2 separate regions of the Homo sapiens genome follow, and region 2 is linked to region 1. Evidence: fine-mapped expression QTL. Tissue or cell type: aorta. Region 1 holds a variant in brackets; the other region holds the start of a gene. All regions are shown on one strand. Distances are between the middles of the regions.

Region 1 (2,752 bases):
CCCAGGGATCACCTATTTCTGATGCTACAGACCCAGACACAAGCAGGTGGTACCCGAGGGTGGCCCTTCTGTAACCACTGGGCTGAAGCGGACATGGAGCACCTGAATACTTAATAAGCATCTATCTGCAGGGCGCGGTGGCTCACACCTGTAATCCCAGCACTTTGGGAGGCCGAGGCAGGCAGATCACCTGAGGTTGGGAGTTCGAGACCAGCCTGACCAACATGGAGAAACCCCATCTCTACTAAAAAGATAAAATTACCCAGGCATGGTGGTGCATGCCTGTAATCCCAGCTACTCGGGAGGCTGAGGCAGGAGAATCGCTTGAGCCCGAGAGGCGGAGGTTGCAGTGAGCCGAGATCGCACCATTGCACTCCAGCCTGGGCAACAAGAGCAACACTCTGTCTCAAAAAACTAAAAAAATAAGCATCTACCCTGTGCCAGGCTGCCTGCTGGGCACTGGACACAGCCACAAAGCAGGCAGCCTGTGCCCTGGTCCCAGCTGGGGAGACAAACAATAACCGATTAAGCCTCACACTTATCTGAAGGAGGGTGTTTTTTTTTTTTTTTTTGAGACAGAGCCTTGCTCTGTTGCCCAGGCTGGAGCGTGGTGGCACGATCTCGGCTCACTGCAACCTCTTGCCTCCCAGGTTCAAGTGATACTCGTGCCTCAGCCTCCCGAGTAGCTGAGATTATAGGAACTCACCATCACGCCTGGCTGATTTTTGAATTTTTAGTAGACACAGGGTTTCACCATGTTGGCCAGGCTGGTCTCGTACTCCTGATCTCAAGTGATCTGCACGCTTCGGCCTCCCAAAGTGCTGGGAGTAAGGCGTGAGCCACCACGCCTGGTCTGTGCCTCATTTTTTCATCCCAGGCTGTTATAGGTTGAATTATGGCCCCCTCAACCCCAAATTCTTATGTTGAAGTCCTGATCCCCAGGGGTAAGAATGTGGCTGTATTTAGAGACAGGGTCTTTAAAAAGCGGTGATTAAGGGAAACTGAGGTAGGGCACAGTGGCACACTCCTATAATTCTAGCACTTTGTGGGGCTGAGGCAGGAGGATTGCTTGAGCCCAAGAGTTGGAGACCGGCCTGGGCAATATGGCGAGACTCCGTCTTGACAAAAAGTACAAAAATTAGCCAGGCGTGGTGGATGCACCTAGTCCCAGCTACTCAGGAGGCTGAGGCAGGAGGATCTGTTGAGCCCAGGAGTCTGAGAACAGCCTGGGCAACATGGTGAAAACTCGTCTCTACAAAAAATTAAAAATAGCCAGGCATGGTGGTGCATGCCTGTGGTCCCAGCTACTTGGGAAGCTGAGATGGGAGGATCACTTGAGCCCAGGAGTTCAAGGCTGCAGTTGAGCCATGATCACACTACTGCACCCCACCCTGGGTGACAGAGTGAGAACCTGTCTCAAAAAAAAAATTTTTTTTTTTAATGTTAAGAGCCAACATTTGCTACAAGCCATGTGCTGTTCTGGGCCTTCAGGTGTTAACCCCAGGTCAGCATTGCCATTCTGTAGAAAAGAAAGT[G/A]GGACCCAGGCTGGGCCTGGTGGCTCATGTCTGTAATCCCAACACTTTGGGAGGCCAAGGCAGGTGGATCACCTGAGGTCGGGAGCTCGAGACCAGCCTGACCAACATGGTAAAACCCCATCTCTACTAAAAATACAAAAATTGGCCAGGTGTGGTGGCACATGTCTGTAATCCCAGCCACTCGGGAGGCTGAGGCGGGAGAATCGCTTGAACCTGGGAGGTGGAGGTTGCAGTGAGCTGAAACTGCACCAGTGCACTCCAGCCTGGGCAACAAGAGCGAAACTCCATCTTAAAAAAAAAAAGAGGGGGCCGGGCACAGTGGCTCATGCCTGTAATCCCAGCACTTTGGGAGGCCGAGGCGGGAGGATCACGAGGTCAAGAGATTGAGACCATCCTGGCCAACTTGGTGAAACCCCGTCTCTACTAAAAATACAAAAATTAGCTAGGCGTGGTGGCAGACGTCTGCAACCCCAGCTACTCAGCAGCCTGAGGCAGGAGAATCGCTGGAACCCGGAGGTGGAGGTTGCAGTGAGCCGAGATTGCACCACTGCACACCAGCCTGGCAACAGAGCAAGACCCCGTCTCAAAAAAAAAAAAAAAAAAAAAAAAGTGAGGCCCACAGAGGCAAAGTAACTTGTGTGAGGGCCACCCAGCTGCTGAGGGGCAGGACACAGTTTGGAACATGGTGTTTTTTTTGTTTTGTTGTTTTTGAGACAGAGTCTCGCTCTGTCGCCCAGGCTGGAGTGTAGTGGCGCGATCTCAGCTCACTGCAACCTCCGTCTCCTGGGTTCAAGTGATTCTCTTGCCTCAGCCTCCCGAGTAACTAGGACTACAGGCACACGCCACCACGCCAAGCTAATTTTTTTTTTTGTAGTTTTAGTAGAGATGGGGTTTCACTGTGTTTGCCAGGATGGTCTCGATCTCCTGACCTTGTGATCCGCCCACCTCAGCCTCCCAAAGTACTGGGATTACAGGCATGAGCCACCGCGCCTGGCCAGAATATGGTGTTTTTTTGGTTTTTTTTTTTTTTTTTGAGATGGAGTTTCACTCTTGCTGCCCAGGCTAGAGTGCAATGGCATGATCTCGGATCACTGCAACCTCCGCCTCCAGGGTTCAAGAAATTCTCCTGCCTCAGCCTCCCGAGTAGCTGGGATTACAGGCACCCGCTACCACACCCAGATAAATTTTGTATTTTTAGTAGAGACGGGGTTTCTCCA
Region 2 (2,752 bases), 930 kb after region 1:
AGCTCCTCGGGCAGGCACAGCGAGCGGATGTCATCGGCTGAGTTCCCACCACTGCTGTCAGGCAGGGCCGGCCCAGGGACCTCGCACAGGGTACCCTCAGGCTCAGAGGCGCCTGGCAGGCAGTCGAAGAGCTTCATGGCGTCCTCCAGCAGAACCTTGTCAGGCAGTGCCAAAGCTCTGGCCGTCTTGGGGGCCTTGGCCTTGCCTGCTCCCAGCAGGGCCCCCTCCTTGACCTCGGCCACCTTGAGCTCGCTGAGGCCCGGTGGGTACAGGGGCACCCCAGGTCGGGCCCCACTGCCCTGCAGCTCCTTGACGGGGAAGGCCAGGGGTTCGGGCCCAGGGAAGTGGCCGAGGTGACCCTGGAGGTGGCTGTAGGCGTCTGGGGGCAGTGTGGGCTCTGCAGGCAGCGTGATGAGTACAGGGGGCGGCTTGTTCTCCTTGGGGGGTGGGGGTGGCAGCGGGGCCGGGCCTTCCTCTAGGGGCGGTAGGGGCAGCTCCACGAAGGCGGCGGGCCCTGCGTCCCCCACAAAACCCAGAGCCTCTGGCCCGGGGCCCTCAGGCGGGAAGTAGGGCAAGAGAAACTGGGGCCCCCCGGGTGCCTGCTGGTAGTGGGGGTATGGAGGCAGCCCCGGGGCCTTGAGGTAGGGCTGAGGCTCCAGGAGGTAGCTGCCTGGGGCGGAGGGGACCCCCGCTGGCCCCCCGCTGCTTGCTGCCAGCTTATACAGGGCTGACTGGCCCAGGTCGGGGGTGGTCCACTCGATCCGATAGATGCGGGGGTCGAAGAAGCACCCGCATGGGGCCATCTGGAAACCTGTGGGCGGCAGGCGGGTGCCCTGAGAGCAGCTGCTGCCTGAGGGGCCCAGCCCAAGCCTGGGGGCCTGTTTGGGAGATGCCACAAGAACCTTGCCATTGGGGGGCCCCTTTGGGGGACGACATAGATATTGCTTTGGGGCCCTGGCTGGGTGATGGATGACACAGAGCTTGTCTTTGGGGCTCATCTGGGGGACCTGTGTGAAGCATGGGGAGCAGAGGCCATGCCTTCAGGCTCCCACTTAGGGACGGGGCAGGGGCAAGATGGGCCTGCACACTCAAACCCACTCCCAGCCTCGTCAAGGGCTCAGGGGAGGCCGGTACCTGCTGGTGGGGCTGGAAACACCTCTTTCTCTGGGTCTGGGGGATGATACAGGTTCAAGGAGCCTGTGGACAAAGGTGCCCAGGTGGGTAGGGCCCTTAGGCGGGTGGGCCCCTGAACCCTCTCCAGCAGGTGCTCCCACCCACCCGATCGTACCCATAGCGGGAGGAGGCTCGGCACAGGTGGGAGCAGGCTGGTTGCCCAGCACCTCAGCCCCCTCCAGACTCTGCGGGCTGAAACCTTCCTGGGGAGCTGCAGGGGCACAGAACGGTTTGGGGTGCTGCATGGGGCAGCGGGGGGCCCGGTCCAGACAGGCCAGGAGGGCGGCAGTGGGAGTGCAAGTGGCCCAACCGGAGAACAGGCTGAGAACCTGGTGGGGTTCTGTTTGCCTGGTTACTCGGGGCAGCGGGTTCCAGCCTGCAGCGCGCCCACTGGTTGGGGTTCTGGGTGTTGGGGGCAAGCAGGGGCAGACGTTGGCAGACATGGTCATCACCATGGGAGGGAGGATTCTGGGCCAGGCCTTTGCCTCTTCCAGCAACACCCCCCTAACAGCTTTGAGGCCGCCTCCTCCAGGCAGGCTGCCCTGATCCACACCCACACAGGCTGAGGCCCCCCGGGTCCTCAACCCGCTACCTTCTTGGGGGTCAAGGCCTCTCTGGGCACCAGCAGCACCCAGCTTGGGGCAGGGCCCATGGAGGCAGCTAAGAGGTTTGGGGAAGGTGGGGGCCGAGGAGGGGCTGCTTCAGGGTCACAGAAAGGCCTGGATTTTAAAAGAATAAAATTTATTGTACTCTCCTCGCCCCAGGGTGCCCCTGGGAAAGCCTGAGGCTACTTGTACGCGTTGGCCTTGTGCTTCGGCAAGAAGGCGAAGCTGGGGGGCACTGGCCCAAGGAGCATCTCGCTGTGGGAGAGCAGGTGGAAAGCGAGGTCAGGCCCAGGACCTGCAAAGTACCCTCCGTGACCCCGGGCCCCCGACTGCAGCTCCCCAACTCCAGCCCACCCAGGCACCTGATGCGGATCCAGTCGGCTGCCTTCTGGCTGGCCATCAGCGTCTCCAGGTAGTCGCGGCCCAGGTAGTAGGGCGGCCGCTCGTTGATCCTCTGTGGGAGCCGCTCCAGCAGCCCCACGGGCACGTACCTGCGGCGGGTGGGCGGGCAGGACAGGCTTGAGTCAGCTCTAACCAGCCGCGGCCCACGCGCCGCCCACCCCAGCCAGCCCCGGTGCCCACCGGCACAGGAAGGACAGCCACTCGAGCAGAAAGCGCCGGGTCTTCTCCACGCCCTGCGTGTCCGAGCCCCAGTGCTCCAGGCCGTAGTTGGTGAAGTCCCGCAGGATGTCCAGGCGCTCGGACGACGAGATGTCCCAGTGCCGCTGCTCCTTGATCTCCGTGAAGAGCCACGGCTTGAGCAGGGCGCCACTGTGGGACGGGTGACGATCAGTGGGCCCAGCCACCAGCCTGCCTGGGATCGTGTGGCCTCTGCTTCCATGGCCTGGCCTGAGCCGGAGCCCAGACCACAAAACCTACAAGCCTAGTAAGCCTCCCAGCTGCATGCACACAACCTTCAAAGCACAGGACTTTCTTTTGTTTTTTCTGAGACGGAGTCTGGCTCTGTCGCCCAG

The links. PIP is the estimated chance that this variant, and not a neighbour inherited with it, causes the effect.
Region 2: it holds the start of PRR22, and the variant in region 1 is the best candidate, but not a certain one, in a credible set for the expression of PRR22 in aorta (GTEx, PIP 0.89).

What each region holds. Positions count from the first base shown.
Region 1 is chr19:4,856,151-4,858,902 of GRCh38, forward strand. The region is part of intron 4 of PLIN3 (perilipin 3); the gene reads right to left. Among named protein-coding and RNA genes, the nearest start is that of PLIN3, 10 kb to the right of the region's middle. The variant G/A (reference allele first, on the strand shown) is at 1,536.
Region 2 is chr19:5,783,243-5,785,994 of GRCh38, forward strand. It overlaps PRR22 (proline rich 22), which reads right to left and starts at 1,504. Exons shown (of 3, transcript NM_001134316.2): 1 at 1,289-1,504; 2 at 1,135-1,197; 3 at 1-811. The coding sequence starts at 1,418. It overlaps DUS3L (dihydrouridine synthase 3 like), which reads right to left. Exons shown (of 13, transcript NM_020175.3): 11 at 2,361-2,549; 12 at 2,141-2,269; 13 at 1,898-2,033. The coding sequence ends at 1,961.